Linked DNA regions of Homo sapiens: region 1 is linked to region 2. The links come from fine-mapping of genetic effects on gene expression. A gene starts in region 2. The other region holds a variant in brackets. All regions are shown on one strand. Distances are from middle to middle.

Evidence for each region.
Region 1: its variant is fine-mapped to the expression of SCNN1B in unexposed skin (GTEx, PIP above 0.99).

The regions. Positions count from the first base shown.
Region 1 is chr16:23,251,619-23,265,041 of GRCh38, forward strand. No RefSeq gene overlaps it. Among named protein-coding and RNA genes, the nearest start is that of SCNN1B, 44 kb to the right of the region's middle. The variant T/C (reference allele first, on the strand shown) is at 6,410.
Region 2 is chr16:23,297,815-23,305,814 of GRCh38, forward strand. SCNN1B (sodium channel epithelial 1 subunit beta) reads left to right here and starts at 4,488. Exons shown (of 13, transcript NM_000336.3): 1 at 4,488-4,623. RefSeq lists enhancers at 3,686-4,203, 4,204-4,720.

The sequences.
Region 1 (13,423 bases), 43 kb before region 2:
ATTTATTTATTTTTGAGATGGAGTCTCACTTTGTTGCCCAGGCTGGAGTGCAGTGACACAGTCTCCGCTCACTGCAACCTCCACCTCCCAGGTTCGAGCGATCCTCCCAGCTCAGCCTCCCAAGTAGCTGGGATTATAGGCACCACCACGCCTGGCTACTTTTTGTGTTTTCAGTAGAGACAGGGTTTCACCATGTTAGCCAGGCTGGTCTCGAGCTCCTGACCTCAAGTGATCCACCCATTTCAGCATCCCAATGTGTTGGGATTACAGGTGTGAGCCACCACGCCTGGCCATATCTTCCATTCATTTCTGATTCACACAGTTCACTCCCTCTATTCCTCATTCCCCCACTGTTACATCCATCCGGAATGTAAGAGCAATATCAATAGATTGCTGAATTATATGCACAGTTAGAATATTGCTCATGTGTAAAGAGAACTGAAAAACATTCTCAAATGTGGAATAACTCAAGTATCAGAACACTATCACTCATCTGGAAAAATCTACTTGAAGACGTAATGCAGCCAGTTGGAAAATGAACCAAAATGAAGATCGAATGCATAGAATATCTAATGTGACAGGACTGGCAGTGAGCGCTCTGCCCCAGTAAGCCCAGAACTAGGTCTAAAGAGAATGAAGGTAAGGATTTAAAACTACAGCTAAAAAAATAAGATGCAGTAAATGTTATAAAAACTGAAAGAAACAGTCTCATGATCATTAATTATATTCCACCGGGAATACCACCTGCAGGATATGTCAAGCAAAATAGATGATATTGTTTATATATCAAGAGCTCTTACAAGTCAATGAGAAAAGTACAAACAAATGGGGACCAAAACTGTCAAGGTCATGACCAGTCAACTCCAGAAGAAATAAAAATGACTAAAAAATATACTAAAAGGCTGGGCGTGGTGGCTCATACCTGTAATCTTAGCACTTTGGGAGGCTGAGGTGGGAGGATCGCTTCAGCCCAGGAGTTCGAGATCAGCCTGGGCAACATAGTGAGAAACTGTCTTTACGAAAACAAACAAACAAACAGAAACAAAATTAGCTGGGCATGGTTCCTAACATCTGTAGTCCTAGCTACTCAGGAGTTTGAGGCGAGAGGATCTCTTGAACCCAGGAGTTTGAGGCTGCAGTGAGCTATAATTGTGCCACTGCCCTCCAGCCTGGCCAACATGTGAGACCCCCATCTCCAAAATATATATAATATATATATAATACGTATATATATAATATGTACATGCATTATATATAATATATGTAATATTATCTACTATATATGTGATATTATATATAATGAATGTACTACATATTATATATAGTATATATGTACTACATATTATATGTAGTATATGTGTAATACATATTATATATAATATATGTAATACATTATTATATACTATACTATATATTAATTAATTATCATATTACTATGATAATATATTAATTATACTATTATATTAATAATATATTAATTATACTATTATATTGATATTATATTAATTATACTATTATATTAATAATATATTAATTATATTATTATATTGATATTATATTAATTATACCATGTTAATAATATATTAATTATACTATTATATTAATATTATATTAATTATATTATTTTAATATTATATTAATATATTATTTTAATATTATATTAATTATATTATTTTAATATTATATTAATATATTATTTTAATATTATATTAATTATATTATTATTTTAATATTATATTAATTATATTATTGTATTATTATATTAATTATATTGTTACATTAATATTATCTTAATTATATTGTTACATTAATATATTAATTATATTGTTACATTAATATTATATTAATTATAATGTTACATTAATATATTAATTATATTGTTACATTAATATTAATTATATTGTTACATTAATATATTAATTATATTGTTACATTAATATTATATTAATTATATTGTTACATTAATATTATATTAATTATATTGTTATATTAATATTAATTATATTGTTACATTAATATATTAATTATATTGTTACATTAATATTATATTAATTATATTGTTACATTAATATTATATTAATTATATTGTTATATTAATATTATATTAATTATATTGTTACATTAATATTATATTAATTATATTGTTATATTAATATTACAATATATGATTATATATTATATACTAGGAACAATAGGAAAGGAATGATAAACACTGGGGACTATATTATAATGATGGCTCACACCTGTAATACCAGCCCTTTGGGAAGCTGAGGCAGGCAGATCACTTGAGTCCAGGAGTTTGAGACCAACCTGGGCAACATGGTGGAACCCCATCTCTACAAAAAAATACAAAAATTGGCTGGGTGTTGTGGCTCACACCTGTAGTCCCAGCTACTCGGAAGCCTGGGGTGGGAGGACAGTGGGAGGCAGATCTTGCAGAGCCAAGATCATATATTAATTACAATATATTAATGCGTTATTATACGCTATATATGTAATACATATATAATATATAATATATAATACATATTATATAATATATATGGGATGCTCAAACCTTATATATAAGAGATGCTCAAACTTAACTAATGATTAAATATATGCCAGTCATATATTTCGTTAAATTTCACCTATTGGATTGGCAAATAATAAAATTTGGTAATGCCCAGTATTTGAGAGGATAAAGAGAAACAGGCTCTCTGGTTAGCTGTTGGTGTTTCTATAAATGGATAAAACCTTTGTGGAGGGCTCCTCACATTCTCTATGAAAATATATAATAGATGAGATGAGGGGCTTTCCAGACATCACCAGACCATGTCTACCAAATAAAGCTGCATTTTTTTCAAATGTTCAAGCTGTACTGACTACAATCCCCAGCTTTCCCAGAGAGTAGAAAGTGCGGTCTGCTGTGTGACCTATGTGACTCTCCAAGGAATGCTTAGACGTTCCATTCTTATGTCACTTGCCAGTGCCCCCAGCCTTGCTCTGAACTGTGGCTGCTCAGGACTTTGCGGTTCACCTTGAGTCATCGGCTCTGTGGTCCCCACACCATTCCAATTACAGACACAGGCTTAAACTTCACTTAACCCCCTTTGGAAGCATAATGAAGGTATTGAGCCAGATTTAACTGAAGGCTTGGGGAAAAACAGAAATGCAGGGTAGACGTTGGCTGACACAGTTCCTGCAGGTAATTATTCCTGGGGGCCACAAGCCCGAAACCAACCCCAGAGATTTTCTACTTCCCAACAGATTTCCACAGGGTAAGGGAGAGCCCAGCTGCATTCAAGAAAAGTTCCATGTGTACCAATGTTTAGCTCCCACTTACAAGTGAGAACGTGTGGTATTTGGTTTTCTGTTTCTGCATTAATTAATTCCCTTAAGACAATGGCCTCTAGATGCATTCCTGTTACTGCAAAGGACATGATTTCATTCTTTTTTATGGCTGTGCCTGTGTTGTATTCCATGGTGAGTATGTACCACATTTTCTTTATCTAACCCACTGTTGATAGGAACAATAGACACTGGAGACTCTAAGAGTGGGAAGGGAGGGAGTGGGGCAAGGGGTTGAAAAACTACCTATTGGGTACTATGCTCACTACGTGGGCAATGGGTTCAGTCATACCCAAAACTCAGCATCAAGCCACATACCCATGTAACAAACTTGCACGTGTATCCCCTAAATCTAAAATAAACGTTTTTTGTGTTTTTTTTGAGACTGAATCTCACTCTGTCCCCCAGGCTGGAGTGCAGTGGCGCAACTGCAACCTCCACCTCCCTAGTTCAAGCAATTCTCCTGCCTCAGCCTCCTGAGTAACTGGGATTACAGGCGCATGCCACCACACCTGGCTAATTTTTGTGTTTTTGTTTTTAGTAGAGACTGGGTTTCACCATGTTGGCCAGGCTGGTCTTGAGCTTTTGACCTCAAGTGATCCACCTGCCTCAGCTTCCCAAAGTGCTGGGATTACAAGCGTGAGCCACCATGCCTGGCCAAATTAAAAAAAAAAAAAAAGAATAAAACAAAAACATATAACAATTACTTTTAAAATACTATATAAGGCCGGGTGTGGTGGTTCATACCTGTAATCCCAGCACTTTGGGATGCCAAGGTGGGCGGATCACCTGAGGTCAGGGGTTCAAGACTAGCCTGGCCAACATGGTGAAACCCCATCTCTAGTAAAAATACAAAAATTAGTTGGGCATGGTGGTGCGTGCCTATAATCCCAGCTATTCGGGAGGCTGAGGCAGGAGAACTGCTTGAACCCAGGAGGCGAAGGTTGCAGTGAGCCAAGATCGTACCACTGCACTCCAGCCTAGGCAACAGAGTGAGACTCCCTCTCAAAGTAATAATAATAATAAAGAAATAAATAAAAATACTATATAAGCCTGGCAAGGCATGATGGCTCACACCTGTAATCCCAGCACTTTGGGAAGCTGAGCCCAGGAGTTCGAGACCAACCTGGGCAACATGGTGAAACCCCATCTCTAAAAAAAATACAAAAATTGGCTGGGTGTTGTGGCTCACGCCTGTAGTCGCAGCTACTTGGAAGGCTGAGGTGGGAGGATAGTGGGAGGCATGATCTTGCAGAGCCAAGATCATGCCACTGCACTCCAGTCTGGGTGACAGAATCAGACCCTGTCTTAAAAATATATAATAAAAATAAAATTAAATATTATATTATATTATATAAGCATGGAATCAAATTATACTATCAAGTAAGGTTCTATTTGAGAAAATAAAAGTTATTTGAAACACAGGAAAAAGATTTCTAGTCCTCTCTCTGGATAGAAGACGTTCCTTTTCCATGGTGCAGAGCTCTCCAAATATTTGAATTTTTGTAGTGATAATGATGATCTTTCCCCTATAATCAGAAGATTAGATATACAACTGATAAAACTGCGTGTGTAAGAAAAAAAATCTCTCCAGAAATTATAGGTGGATCCTACAAACAAATACAGTCAAGATTCTTGTGGCCAGAACAGGCAGTTCACTTAAGGAACACCCTTCTAAGAGTACACCTTGTTCCTGTCTGGGTGTGCCGCAAGTTATAGACTCTCAATAAATGTTTGTTGAGTGAAGAAATAAATGTTGACCACCTTCCACCATCACCTTATGAGATAAAGTCCAGACTTATTTGAATGGATTCCAAGTCTGCATTACCCGGCCTTAAACTCTCATCATTTTACTCTGGTCCCACCACTGTATTCACTGGGTCTTTGCCTGCTCCATCTCATCCTCCCTTCAAACCCCAAATCAAGTCCCACTTCCACCTCTGAAGTCTCATTAGTCTCTGACATCCCCATGTTCACATTCAGTCCCCTCTTCTCAAGTCATGTCCCTGCGTCCTCTTCACATTTCATTTCATGTACTAAATATATATTTATAGACTAGTTCATTTTCTAAATGTGCAAATCTTGTCTCTTTAAGAAGATAAATCCTGGCAAAGAACCTCCTCCTGCTCCTGTTTCTTCCAATGCAGTTGGTGATCAATAAATATTTATTGGTTTCTGGATTCATTATTATTTTCTCTCCTTTCTTTCTTTCTTTTCTTTTTCTTTCTTTTTTTTTTTTTTTTAAGATAGGGTCTTGTTCTGTCAACCAGGTTGGAGTGCAGTGGCACAATCACAGCTCACTGCAGCCTCCAACTCCTGGGCTCAAGCCATCCTCCTGCCTCAGCCTCCCAAAGTGCTGAGATTACAGATGTGAGCTGCCGCACTCAGCTATTATTCTTTTCTTTCTGTTCATTGAATCATTAACTCTGTTTTAGATTTGTTTCCCCAAAAGCAGATCTGGGGATCTGAGACAGAGAATTTATATGAAAGTGATTTTGTTGTTGTTGTTGTTGTTTGGTTTTTGGTTTTGTGGTTTTTTTTTTTTTTTTTCAGAGATGGGGTCTTGCTATGTTGTCCATGCTGGCCTCAAACTCCTGGGCTCAAGAGATCTTCCCACTTCAGCCTGAGTAGCTCGGGCAGCAGGTGGACACCACAAAGCCAGGCTGTGTGAAAGTGATTCATAAGTGTTCCCAGAGAAAATTGGTAGAGAAGTGGAGAAGGGGAATGGGGCGAGAAAGAAGGTTAGACAAAGGTGTGTTATCAAGTAAAGTCACACAGAGGGTAATTGAGGCTTGACCCTCCAGGGGAGCTTTGGGACACTGTGGGTCATTAGGGCAAAGGAACTGGAGGATTTCTATCCCCACACTGTCAGTCATGAGTTAAGGGCTGTCCCCGGGGCATGAAAACTTTCAGGTATTTCTGGTTTTCTTGAACATGCAGGAAAAGCAGGTCCTAGCAGCCTATGTGCAGCCCTCCAGTGAAGGCCAAAGGTACTGGCCATTGGGAGGAAAAGTACACAGAAACCTACAGTGCACAAAAATGGTAAAATAATACAGAGTACAGGAGAGCTGAGAGCATC[T/C]GCACATTCTTTCAACAGACTTTTACTGAATATCTATTACATTATAGATGCTGCATGGAAATTGTCCAGGCACAGTCTTTGCCTTCAGCGATCCAGTCCTGATGTCTTTTTTTTTTTTTTTTTTTTTCCCCCACAGCCGGGATCTCACTCTGTCGCCCAGGCTGGAGTGCAGTGGTGTGATCACAGCTCACTTCAGCCTTGAACTCCTGGGCTCAAGCAATCCTCCTGCCTTGGCCTCCCAAAGTGTTGGGATCACAGGCAAGAGCCACCACGCCTGGCCCGGTCCTGATGTCTTGAAGGGGAGACAATTGCACATGAGTTAGTCTTGTTCAGGACGCAAGGTGCAATAGCAGCAGCAGGTAGGAACTCAGAGAGGAAGTGCCCCAACTGTGCCCAAGTGATTCTCGGGCGTGACTTAGGATCTTAAAGGATGACTAAGGGGGAAAAAGGTATTCCTAGCCAAAGGAACAGCATGTACGAAGGCAGAGAAAGAAAGTACACATTTGTTTGGAAATAAGGAGTAGTTTGCTGTAGCTAGAACACAGGGTGTGGGAGAAAGGAAGACAACGGGAAGCCAAGGCTGTAAAGAGAGGCTGGGAAGAAGTGACGAAACATTTTATACCCCGTTAAGGAGACAGTAAAATTTTGAGATGGGCCTACCTGGCCATGATTATAGAGGTATTTAGGAAGAGAGGGTGGCCACATAAACCAGGTACTGGACACCAGGTGTTCTGTCAGCCCAGCATCCACAACCCTAACCAGATCATCCTGTTTCTCTCTCTCTCTCTCTCTCTCTCTCTCTCTCTCATTATAGAGATGGGGTCTCACTATGTTGCCCAGGCTGGTCTCAAACTCCTGGCCTCAAGCCATCCCCCCACCTCAGCTTCCCAAAGTGCTGGGATTACATGGGTGAGCCACTATACCCAGCCCTGTTTCTCTAGGCCTGATGATTGCCAGACAAAGGAGAGTCAGGGCTGGGGCTTTCCTTGGAGAGGTTGGGAAAGAGGTTTGCAGAACTGCACACTGGCTGGAGGGAAGGGCAGCTCAGAGAACAGAGCCAGCAGGTGGAGACATGAGGAACAGCTTCTGTGGACGTCAGCATAGTGCCGGATCCAGTGGACACAGGGATACCAATATTCCCTATGATGATAAATATCAATTAATTCCAATAAGTTTCCTTTTTCTGGCTTAAGCTGGATTGAGTCAGGTTTTTGTCACATTAAATGAATGAGTCCCCATTCATACAGAATATATGGGGATTTTTGTTCTGTGTTGTTTGAGACGGAGTCTTGTTCTGTCGCCCATGCTGTAGTTCAGTGGCGGGATCTCAATTCATTGCAACCTCTGCCTCCTGGGCTCAAGCAATTCTCCTGCCTCAGCCTCCAGAGTATCTAGGATTACAGGCGCCCACTTTTTTGTATGTTTTTGGTAGAGACAGGGCTTCATAATGTTGGCCAGGCTGTTCTCGAACTCCTGACCTCAAGTAATGCCATTCAAGTGCACATCAACTGTTTTGGAGAATGCTGCCAAGGTGGTATTCAGAGGAAAATGCCTAGCCTTAAATACTTTTGTTAATAAAAAAAAAATTCTAAAGTAAGTGGACTATGCATTCAACTCAAGAAATTAGGAAAAGTAAAACAAAAGAAATCAAAAGAAAGTAGAAGGGGAAAATATGTAAAATTAGAAACAGAAGTTGGAGAAGGGAAAGAGGGAAAAGGGCAGACTTGATAGAGGAAAGACCTGCCAGGCGCAGTGACTTATGCCTGTAATCCCAGCACTTTGAGAGGCTGAAGTGGGAGAATTGCTTGAGCCCAGGAGTTCGAGACCAGCCTGGGCAACATGGTGAAACTCCATATCTACAAAAAATACAAAAAGTAGCTGGGTGTGGTGGCTTGCACCTGTGGTCCCAGCTTCTCGAAAGGCTGAGGCTGGAGGATTGCTTGAGCCCAGGAGGTGGAGGCTGCAGTGAGCCGTGATAGCACCACTGCACTCCACCCTGGGTGACAGAGCAAGACTCTGTCAAGAAAGAAAGAGAAAGAAAGAAAGAGAGACAGACAGAGAGAGAGAGAGGGAGGGAGGGAGGGAGGGAGGGAGGGAAGGAAGGAAGGAAGGAAGGAAGGAAGGAAGGAAGGAAGGAAGGAAGGAAGGAAGGAAGGAAGGAAGGAAAAGAAAGAAAGGAAATGAAAGAGAGAGAGAGAGGGAGGCAGCAAGGGAGGGAGGGAGAGAACGAAGGAAGGAAGGAAGGAAGGGAGGAAGGAATGGAGAGAAGGAAGGGGAAAGAGAGAGATTAAAATCAATCAAACTTACAAAGCATCTCAATTAATTTGGAGAGAATAAACATCTTTCCAATACTGAATTGCCACATTCAGGAACATGTCCTAAGCATTGAAGTCTTTATTCAGGCCTTTCTGTATAGGTTTATAGTTTTCTTCAGAAGGGTCTTGCACAGTTTTTTGTTACTATTGTTCCTGAGATATCTTTGAGTTTTCTAGCTTGGAAAACTGGGTGGATAAAGGAATCACTCACAATAGCAACCAAGTCCACAAAATACCCAGGAATCAGTACACTGGGGTGGCCAAGACACTTTTGGGAAACTAACAGGAGCAATGTTGGTGGGCAGGAAACTTACCATACCCAATAGAGAAATCCACTATAAAGTCACAGTCGCTAAAACAGTGTCATATAGCAGCTGTATGTGGTACAGTTATTCAGTGAGATGCCACTTAGCAATAAAAGGAAGCAAACTATTTTTTTTTGAGACAGGGTCTCACTCTGTTGCCCAGGCTGGAGTATAGCAGCATGATCACGGCTCACTGCAGCCTCGACTTACCAGGCTCAAGTGATCCTCCCATCTCAGCCTCATGAGTAGCTGAGGCTACAGATGCACCCCACCATGCCCAACTAATTTTGTATTTTTTGTAGAGACAGGGTCTGACTATGCTGCCCAGGCTGGTTTCAAACTCCTGGGCTCAAGCGATCCTCCTGCCTCAGCCTCCCAAAGTGCTGGAATTACAGCTTTGAGCCACCACGCCCTGGCAAGGTAGCAAATTATTGATACACCCAACAACTTAGAGGAATCTCAAAGACATTACACTGAGTAATTGAAGCCAATCTGGAAAGGTTACCAATTATATTATTCCATTTATGTGACATTCTGGAAAAAAACTATATTAATAGACAACAGATTAGTTACCAGGGTTACAGAGGGAGGATGTGGCTATGTAGGGGTGGCCTGAGGGAGATTTCTGGGGTGATAGTTGTGGTGGTAGTTACACAAATACATACATGTGTTAAAATTCATGAAACTGTACGCAGTTAATTTTATTACATGATAATCTTAAAAATAAAATACACAAAGCAGTTTAGTGGTAATATAATAGTAAACAAATAGAATCTTTGAAATCAGAGCTAGTCTATATGCATAAGGCTATTAGGAAGTAAATATGAGGCCAGGAGTGGTGGCTCATGCCTGTAATCCTAGCACTTTAGAAGGCCAAGGTGGGCAGATCACTTGAGGTCAGGAGTTCAAGACCAGCCTGGCCAACATGGTGAAAATCCATCTCTACTAAAAATACAAAAATTGGCTGGAAATTGCTTGAACTCTGGAAGCAGAGGTTGCAATGAGCCCAGATCATGCCACTGCACTCCAACCTGGGCAACAGAGCGACACTCCATCTCAAAAAACAAAGGAAATAAAAATGGTTTTTCTGGAGATTGGTTGTATGATAATATGCATGTGTTTAACACTACTGAATTGTATACCTGAATAGTTAAGATGACAAATTTTATATGTTTCATTTTCCCACAATTTAAATAAAAAGATTGGTCCTACACTGGTAAGTGTTGAAGTCAGAAGATCATTATACCATTATGCTACTTTTGTATAATTTGACATTTCTCGTAATTAAAAAGCTTTCTTTATTATAAACAGTGATTTTTCACATCAGTGGTAAAATGCTATATAAAAGTATAGAGATATTTGACTTTTTGTTTAGAAAGAAAAAAATCCCACCCTCAAATATTTTAAAAGACCAGTCAGATTTAAATTTTTACGTTAAAAAAAAATCTATAAAAACACGAAAGAGCTAGAGGAAAGTAGAGGAAGGTAATCTTATAACCCAGGGGAAAGGAAGGCTTTTGCAAAGCTTTCCAGGAAGTTCCAAAGCCATAAAGGACAAAGAGCCTAGATTTGATGACATGAAAACTCCAACTTACACCTGATAAAAGATATCATAAACAAAGTGATTAAAAGCTAAGCTATAAACTGGGGGAAAGCATATTTATCAGAGCCTCCCTGGCCCCTTTGCCCATTAAGGAACCCACCTGTCCCCTGGAGGCCTCTAGGTTTGCATCCTATAATACAAATCATCCTTTCAAGTCCAGTTCATGATCATCAGAAATTGAAAACAAAAACAGACAAAAAAAAACCAAACAAACAGATGTAGCATACAGATAAGTCCTGCTGCCTGTTAATGACATCAGGCTTGGACCCAGAAGGACACAAGTATATAAACTGTGGCTCTCTCGCCTAACCCTGCAAAGCCTCAATTTCTCCATCTGTATGTGGGGTTAATGATGGAGAAATGTTACCTATCCATTATGATAGGAGATAGGTTGATGGATTGTGGTGGTGGTGTGGGTAGGAGTTTATTTTTTTCTGCATAGATTTCTACATTTCCCAAATACTGGACAAGAATGAGCTATTACTATTATAACCAAGAAAAGGTGATTTACATTTTGTCTTTTTTTTTTTTTAAAGAGGTGACTCAGAGGTTTAACTTAATATCTGGGGCCAGATGCAGTGGCTCATGCCTGTAATCCCAGCACTTTGGGCGACTGAGGCGGGTAGATCACCTGAGGTCAGGAGATCAAGACCAGTCTGGCCAATATGGCGAAACCTCATCTCTACCAAAAATACGAAAATTAGCTGGGCGTGGTGGTGCACGCCTGTAATCCCAGCTACTTGGGAGGCTGAGGCATGAGAACCCAGGAGGTGGAGGTTGCAGTGAGCCAAGATCATGCCACTGCACTCCAGTCTGGGCAACAGAGCGAGACTTTGTCTCAAAAAAAAAAAAAAAAATCTCTGGAGGACAGATCAAATGAGTATAAAACTAGGATGTCTGGGCTAGTCCTTAATCTTTGGAAATGATGATGTTTCCTCCCCAAGGTCCTTACCCTAAGTGCATGTAAGGACAACTAAGACACCAGCCCTACTTGAGAGTGGCTCGCCGTCTATTCCAATGGTATTGGAGGCAGACAGGCAGGAGGCTTAGTACAGTGCAGGCTGATCAATTCAGGGCATAGGTGAGTGCTGAAAATTACTGTGGTTATTGATCTGGGATATGGGCAGTGGGGTAAAGGGGAAGGTTTATGATACAACCTAGATCACCAGGATATAGATACATAGGTGATAGATAGATTATATATAGTTGACCCTTAAACAACATGGGTTTGAACTGTGTGGGTCCACTTACATACAAATTTTTTTTCAATAAAAGTTACATGGAGTGTGCGTGCCTCTCCTGCCTCCACTTCCACCTCCTCCACCTCTTTCACCTCTGCCACCTGTGAGACAGCAAAACCAACCCCTCCTCTTCCTCTTCAGCCTTCTCAATGTGAAGATGACAAAGATGAAGACCTTTGTGATGATCCACTTCCACTTAATGAATAATAAACAGATTTTCTCTTCCTTATGATTTTCTTTTCTTTTTTTTTTTTTTTCCTTGAGACGGAGTCTCACTCTGTCACTCAGGCTGGAGTGCAGTGGTGTGATCTCAGCTCACTGCAACCTCCACCTCCCAGATTTAAGCCATTCTCCTGCCTCAGCCTCCCGAGTAGCTGGGACTACTGGTACCCGCCACCACCCCCAGCTAATTTTTGTATTTTTAGTAGAGACTGGGTTTCACCATGTTGGCCAGGCTGGTCTCGAACTCCTGACTTCAGGTGATCCGCCCCCCTCGGCCTCCCAAAGTGCTGAGATTACAGGAGTGAGCCACCACGCCCACACCTTCTTGATTTTCTTAATAACATTTTCTTTTCTCATTCTCACCTGAGTCGCTAGAGAAAGTCTTCCAGAAGTCACATTTGAGCTGAATCTTGAAGGATGATGAGACTTTCATCAGGTGTGGGGCATGAGAGCCCAGGAAGAGGGGAGGGCATATGAAAATGCACACAGGAGCCAAGCACAGTGGGTACGCCTGTAATTCCAGCACTTTGGGAGGCCGAAGTGGGAGAATTTCTTGAGCCCAGGAGTTCAAGACCAGCCTGGGCAACGTAGCAAGACTCCATCTCTACAAAAAAAATTATTTCAAATAAAATAAAATGCACGTAGGCACAGAAGAACATGGCCAACTTGTGGTGAAGCAAAATGTCCAAATGGACTCTCATAAATAGGGAAGCAGATGAGGCTGGAATGATGGACTGAGGGTTGAGAGGGTCTTGAAGGGGCTTTGACTCATCTCTTCGGTTAAAGGGAGACAGTTAAAGTCACATGAGCTGGGAGATGAGGAGATTCGATCCTCATTTTAGAAAGATATCACTGTAACAAGACAGGGATGGATTGGAGCAGGAGAGACCTTTTACTCGATCAATGCCACAAATATTCATGGAGTGGCCCCTGCTGAATTAGTTTCCTATTGCTGCTGTAATAAGCTACCACAGACTTAGTGACTTAAAATAACACAGCTTTATTTATTTATTTTTTAAGTTCTGGAGGTTAGAAGTCTGAAATGGGTCACACTGGGTTAAAACAAAGGTGTCAACCAGGCTGCATCTCTTCTGGAGGCTTTAGGGGAGAATTCATTTTCTTGCCTTTCCCAGTTCTAGAGGCTGCCTATGTTCTTTGGCTCCCTCCATCTTCAAAGCCAGAAATTCTCCCATTGAGTCTTTCTAATGATGCCATTTCTCTGGCGATAACCCTTTCACCTCCCTTGTTCCCATTTAAGGACTCTTGTGATCATATGGGGCTCACCCAGATAATCCAGAAAAATCTTTCATCTCCAGATCAACTGATTA
Region 2 (8,000 bases):
AAAATACAGATGAGGGGTGAAAAAGGAGTGGTGACCCCAGAGCTAAACTAAGTGCAGTTACCTGAAGTAGAATGAATGGATGTTTGGTGTCCCCAACTCTCCCACACCCCCAAAAAAGAATATTCACCTTGTCTTCTATGCAAAGTATTGTGTGAGATGGTGGTTATAAAGGGTAATATGGCTTCAACATCTAACATCTCATGGATTTCTAGGGCTAGATTGGCTGATCTCATCTCCTAGAATTGCACTAACCCAAAGAAAGCAAAAGGACTGTCTTTCCACAATACTACAAAAATATTCAATAGAACATTTTTTGGGGGGTCCCTGAGAGACCTCCCAAACCAGTCATTAACCCTTTCAGACGTGAATTCATCTGACTGTGCCATAATTTAACCCATGAATCTTCATCCATAAAAAGAGTTTTTTAAAATTTGGCCAAATTAATGCAGGGCAGGTTCTTGGCTTCATTCAGGAAGGAATTCAAGAGCCAGCTAGCTGGTGGTGGAAGAAAATGCCTTATTGAGGCAGCAGCAGTGTTAGGCTCTGTCCCTGCTCCTGCAGAGCAAGGCTACCCCATGACGGCCAGAGCAGCCTAGCAGTCATATTTATACCCACTTTTAATGACATGCTAATTAAGGGGGCAGGTTATTCAGAGATAGCTAGAAAATGGGCGGTAACTTCCCGGCGTTGCCATGACAATGGTAAACTATAATGGCACTGATGGCCTTGTTTCATGGAGAGGTGCTGTTGGTGCCTCTTCCGTGTTTGGCCAGTATTCAAACTTATCCAGAGTCAAGTTTTGCCTACTTCCTACCTCAAAACGATCCACAGTTCTAAACAGCTGGCTAAAGTCCATATGGATGCTGTCTAATGGTGTCAGACTGTAGACCCTAATAAAAAGGGGAAACAAGTTGGTTTTCTCCTCAGGAGGCCAAGTTAACTACAGAACACAACACTCTTTGTTCATAGTTGCTTAAACATTCATGCCTTAAAACTTGCCAGCCTAACATCAACCAGTCTGGAGTTCCCAGACATCCCAAAACTCCAACTCTCCAACAATGGAAATCATGACACAGAATGAAGATGTCAGTTGTATAAAGCTGGTCACAACAGCACAGTTCCACAGGGGACTCATTCTAAAACTGTCCAACAGGGCCCCAAAAGAAAACCTTCAAAAATAACGTATTGGGTTGAACCATATGAAATTGCTATGTTCTTTTTTTTGCTTTTTGCTTTTTCTTTTTCTTTTTTTTTTTTTTTTTCGAGATTGAGTCTCACTCTGTCACCCAGGCTAGAGTGCAGTGGCACAATCTTGGCTCACTGCAACCTCCGCCTCCCGGGTTCAAGTGATTCTCCCACCTCAGCCTCTTGAGAAGCTGGGATTACAGGTGCGCACCACCATGCCTGGCTAATTTTTTGTATTTTAGTAGAGATGGGGCTTCACCATGTTGCCCAGGCTGGTCTCGAACTCCTGAGCTCAGGCAATCCGCCCACCTTGGCCTCCCAAAGTGCTAGGATTACAGGCATTAGCCACCCCGCCCAGCCGAAATTGCTATTTTCATAGGTCAATAATAGTCAAATATCAACAATTTTATATGGTCACAACCAAATACACCTGGGAAGCATTGATTTTCAAAGTGAGGTCCACAGACCCCTGGGAGGTCCCAGAGATCCTTTCAGGAGAAACTGTGAGGTCAAAATCACTTTCATAAGAATCCTAAGATGTTATTTGCCTTTTTCACCTGTGGACATTTTCCCTGACAGTGCAAAAGCAATGGTAGGTCATCACTGGTCATTACAGAAATGCAAATCAAAACCACAATGAGATACCATCTCACACCAGTTAGAATGGCAATCATTAAAAAGTCAGGAAACAACAGATGCTGGAGAGGATGTGGAGAAATAGGAACGCTTTTACACTGTTGGTTGGAGTGTAAATTAGTTCAACCATTGTGGAAGACAGTATCGCGATTCCTCAAGGATCTAGAACAAGAAATACCATTTGACTCAGCAGTCCCGTTACTGGGTATATACCCAAAGGATTATAAATCATGCTGCTATAAAGACACATGCACATGTATGTTTATTGCGGCACTATTCACAATAGCAAAGACTTGGAACCAACCCAAATGCCCATCAATGATAGACTGGATAAAGAAAATGTGGCACATATACACCATGAAATACTATGCAGCCATAAAAAAGGATGAGTTCATGTCCTTTGCAGGGACATGGATGAAGCTGGAAACCATCACTCTCAGCAAACTGACACAGGAACAGAAAACCAAACACTGCATGTTCTCACTCATAAGTGGGAGTTGAACAATGAGAACACATGGACACAGGGAGGGGAGCATCACACACCAGAGCCTGTCAGGGGGTGGAGGGCTAGGGGACGGAGAGCATTAGGAGAAATACCTAATGTAGATGATGGGTTGATGGGTGCAGCAAACCACCATGGCACGTGTATACCTGTGTAACAAACCTGCACGTTCTGCACATGTATCCCAGAACTTAAAGTATAATAATAATAAATAAAAAAGACTGAAAAAAAAAGCAATGGTGGGTCAAGTTATATGAAGCTGAATTTACTTCATTTACTTCAACTAAAACAACAGATTGCAGCCGACTGAATACGAGAATCCAGCTGTCTCTTATTAAGCCAAGCATTAAAGAGATTTGCAAAAATGCTAAACAGTGCCCTTCCCACTGATTTTTTTTTTTTGAAAAATATTTTTCAGCCAGGCATGATGGCTCACACCTGTTATCTCAGCTCTTTGGGAGGCTGAAGTGGGAAGATTGCTTGAGGCCAGGTATTTGAGACCAGCTTGGGTAACACAGCAAGACTTTGTCTCCAGAAAAATAAACTTTTTTTAATTAGCCGGAAGCAGTGGCACACACACCTTGTAGTCCCAGCTAAGGCAGGAAGATGGCTTGAGCCCAAGAGTTTGAGGCTGCAGGGGTCACACCACTGCGCTCTAGCCTGGGCAACAAATTGAGACCCTGTCTCTCTTTACCAAAAAAAGAAAAAAATTGTAAAAAAGCCTTTTATTTATGTCAACAAGTAGTGGGTTTATTATAGTGTAATGCATTAATAAATATTTTTAGGTATCAGTTTTAGTTTCTCATATGGAAAGTATCATTATATAAACAAAATAACATATATGTGTTAAAAACACGTGTGTGTGTGTGTGTGTGTGTGTGTGTATTCCACATAAACAAAAAGTCTCAGGTATTCTGTAATTTTTAAAAGTACAGAAGATTCCTGGCTGGGCATGGTGGCTCACACCTGTAATCCCAACACTTTGGGAGCCCGAGGCGGGTGGATCACTTGAGTCCAGGAGTTCCAGACCAGCCTGGCCAATATGAAGAAAACCCATCTCTACAAAAAACACAAATTAGCCGGGCATGGTGGTGCATGCCTGTAATCCCAGCTACTAGGGAGGCTGAGGCAGGAGAATTGCTTGATTCCGGGAAGTGGAGGTTACAGTGAGCTGAGATGACACCACTGCACTCCAGCCTGGGCAACAGAGTGAGACTCTGTCAAAAAAAAAAGAAAGAAAGAAAGAAGAAAGAGAGAGGTAGGGAGGGAGGGAGGTGGAGAGAGAGAGAGAGAAAGAAAGGAAAGAGAAAGAAAGAAAAGAAAAGAAAAATACAAAAGATTCCTAAGACCAAAAATTTTGAGAATGACTGCATTAAGACAATCTATGGAGAAATATACAGGAAACTAAGTGTTAAGGATATTGGCAAGAAAGTGGCTGAAATGATAGTCCTGAAACCTTGACTTGATGAGAAGAGAAAAGAAAAGGAAGGGAAGATTCGAGGAAATGCGCAAGGCCCGCCAGTGCCCTGAGGCTAGAGCACAGGTGTAGTGGGCACTCCAGAGGGGGCCAGAGTTCCCAATCTCGGGGTGGGCTGTTTGAATTTCTAATGCAAAGATAGGACCTATCGGGGATGACTGAGATCTGGGAGGTCTCCACCTTGGTGGAGGTGGAAGAGGCGGAGGGAAGAACGTTCCTGGGAAAAGTGGCTGCATATGTCCCCCTAAAGTCACCAACTTGCCCAGAGGACACTGTGTCTGCAGGGGTGTGGATGTGATGGGGGCGCGCCTGTACTGGTGAGCGCGATGCTTCGCCTAGGTGAACGGGACAGGTACACGCGTGGGGTGGGATGGAGTGTTCATATATGTGGCTTGTGATATGTACTGAGGGGACGTGGGGTACACTCGGATGAGGGGTCTGTGGACATATTCGTGGCGCATGTGGGTATCGCTGGTGTCCCGAGGTGGGGAGGGAGAATGCGGAGCGCGTGCGTGCGGGGGGCGTCCAGTGTCCCTGAACCTGGCGTGTGGGGGCTGGAGCTTATTGGGAGGCGAGGGAGGTGGCCAGGGGAGCCGGGACCGTGCGTGTGGCCAGGCCGGTAGCGCCCAGTAAGCTCCACCCGCGGGCGCTCCCCGTGCTTCCCCGCCCCTGAACCTGCTCCCTCCCAGTCGGTCTCGCCGCGCTCGCCGGGTGTCCCAGTGTCACCAACACTCGGCCGCCGCCGCCAGCTTGGCGCGCACCGCCGCCTCCGCCACCGCCGACAGCGCGCATCCTCCGTGTCCCCGCTCCGCCGCCCGAGCAGGTATGACGGCGAACCCTGGCTCGCACCCGGTCTCCCGCGCGCTGCCCGGAGTCCCTGCGCGCGCGCCTTCTCCTGCCCAACCCCGGCCCGCGAGCTCCTGTCCCGGCCTCAGTTTCCCACGGGAGGGCGCTTGGGTGCCTGTCTGAGGCGCCTGGGACCCGGCCTGGGGACTGAACGGGTTGGGGGCGGAGGGGAGAGCTGGAGGCTGGGAAAAGCCCCCAGGGTGCAGAAGGCAGACGGGGCCAGGGTCCCCGGCGTGTCTGGGACCTCAGAGACGGCGGCAAAGTCCTGGCATAGAGTGGGCGGGGCAAGAAGTTGTTCAAGAGGTGACAACAATGAAACTCGAGAGCGCTTTCTACGTGCTGGGCACAGCTCAGCAGAGCGCCTTGCTCAAACGACCTAACTTCGCTCACAGGGCATCCCTGTGGGGTGGTTCTCTTGCTGTCCCCATTTTGCAGAGGTGCAAACTGAGGGTCAGAGGGTGGGGAAGCTTCCCTACGTCCCAGGAACAAGTTGCTGAGCTCAGATTTGAACCCAGGCAGTCCGACCCTGGAGCCTACCTCGTGGGCTGTCAGTGGCGTCCGGGGAACGTGGGTTTCATTTGGGGTGATGTGGTGGAGGAGGCCAGATCCGAACGCCCTGCAGTTGTCTGCGCTGAGGATTCTCAAGTGCTAAGTTGATGTCTGGACAATGTCATATGACTTAGGTGTGCTGTGGAGGGAAAGGGTCTGGGATATAGTACAGGGACATTCTCACTCTAGCGTGGAGGGGGAAAATGAGGCACAGAGTTTAGGGAGGAAGCAGCAGAGACCTCCAGTCCACAAAAGGCACATCTTCCCACTCACCTCCACCAGGGAGTAGGGGCAGAACAACCAAGACTGGCTTTGGTCCCTGGCAGCCCAGCTCTCACAAAGCCGGGTGGATGGGTCTGAAAGCTCCCAGAGACCTGAGCACCCCTGTCTCAGATCCCAGCATCCGTGAGTGACCCAACCTGCCTACCCATTGAGCTGTGTAATTCCATGCAGAACACAGGGATCCATTCTTCTTCCTCTGTAATCTTCCACCCCTGCCCTCCCAGCTCCCCAAAGGTAAACACCTTCATAATTTGGAGTGTTTCCTTCTAGACCCTTTCCCCCACCTACACAGTCATATATACAGAGCCATAGAAAATATGTAAAATACTTAGTAATGTAGTAATGTTGTAGGTGGATATTTAATAGAAATGATGCAACCCTTGGGAGGCTGAGGAGGGCGGATCACTTGAGGTCAGGAGTTTGAGACCAGCCCAGCCTACATGGTGAAACCCCATTTCTACAAAAAAAAAAAAAAAAATTAGCCGGGCATAGTGGTATGTGCCTGTAATCCCAGCTACTCAGGAGGCTGACGCAGGTGGATCGCTTGAACCCAGGAGGTGGAGGTTGCAGTGAGCTGAGATGGCACCATTGCACTCTAGCCTGAGTGAAAGAGCAAGACTCTGTTTCAGAAAAATAGAACTAGAAGTAGAAATGGTACAACCCACCTATGTCATTCTGCAACTTGAGCCCTCTCATCACCAGTTATCCATGCTGCTGCATATAAACCCAGCTTATTTATTTAAACTGCTGCATGGATTCCCGCCGTGGATAATGCCTACCGATGGGAATTTAGGTGACAAAAATTTTCAGGTTGGTTTTTATTTCAGCATCTTCTATAAATTGTTATCTCTGGGTTAAGTTCAATTTATTTTTCTTTATCCTAAACTAACTTCACAGGATCTGAATTTAGGGGATGAGGTCCTCTCTTTTCCACTGCTCACATACGGACCCATGAATGCATGCACACACACACATGCACACATGTGTGTACATATGCATGTTCACACACAAGCACACACGGGCACACATACATGAGACATACACACAAGCAAGTGTACATGCATGCATACACACACACAGGTGTGTGCACACACCTCTATTCTGTCTATGACCAAGGACAAACACCACACTTTCTCTAGCTGCAGTCTCTGCAGGTCCCTAAGGCTGAGACTCAGCCAGGCCACTAGTTCTGCCTGGCCATGCCCCAATGGGCAGAGGTTCCATCGGGGCCACCTCCAGGGGTTCTCTCTAGATGCCCTCCAAAGCCAAACTCAGCCTCCAATAGCAGACAGAAGGAGCTGAGAACCACGAACCACGGACTGGCAGATTGGACTGTCCAGGGTCCTGTTTGTGTACCACAAACTGTAGGTCCAGGCTGTGGCCTAAAGAGAGTGTGTTTGCTATAGACTGACAGGACCCTTAAAAGTTTGGTGGAACCCATGATCTGGGTTGATGAAAAGCTAGAATCAGAGACACTACATTATAATCCCAGCTTCACCCCTTCCTAGTTCAGGCAATTCCCTTCCCCTCCCTGAGCCGTAGTTTTCACATCTGTAAAATGGGCATGATAATAATGGCACCCTCCCCAAACTGTTAGGTGGATTAGTGGGGTGATGTAAATAAAATGCTTAGGGACTCATCAGCATCAGTAAGCAGGAAGTCTTTTCCTGAACAGGGGAGACCTGGAGATGGCCCTTGGGTGGTGGGGGGACGCAGGGGTGATGCCTAGAGCCACTGTTTGTGACTTCATCCACACCCCAAGTACAGACCAGAGGGTCCTTTGCACTGAGCCCTGAGCCAAAGAAGAGATTTCCGCTTGTTGAGAGCCAAGCCCAGCTTACTGTGGAGTCCAGAAGTGTCATGTTACTTACAAAAGGCCTAAGGTGTGCCTGGTCCTGGGTTAAGACACAGAAATGAAGTGAGCTGAGGTGCTCCCCTTTGGAATACAAGAGATAGCAAAAGTCACAAAGAAGGCCTGTGGACTTTTAAATTTTTAGATTATTCCCAAGATTTTAAAAATCAGTTCATATAAGACTCCATATTTCTGGATCCTCTTGAGATATCAGTAAAGCTGGCAATGGCCAGGCATGGTGGTTCACACCTGTAATCCCAGCACTTTGGGAGACCAAGGAGGGTGGGTTGTTTGAGCTTAGGAGATCGAGACCAGCGAGTTGCTTGAGCTTAGGAGATCAATATCAGTCTGAGCAACATGGCAAAAACCCATCTCTACCAAATATATATATTATATATATATATATATATATATATATATATATATATATATATTATATATATATATATATATATAACCTGGGTGTGGTGGCATGTACCTACAGTCCCAGCTACAGGGGAAGCTGAGGTGAGAGGCTCCCCTGAGCCCAGGAGGTTGAGACTACAGTGAGCTGTGATCACACAGTTGTACTCCAGCTTGGGCAACAGAGTGAGACCCTGCCTCAAAAAAGGAAAAGAAAGAAAGAAAAGAAAAGCTGGCAACTCTGGGCCAGACACTCAGCTGCCCCCTTA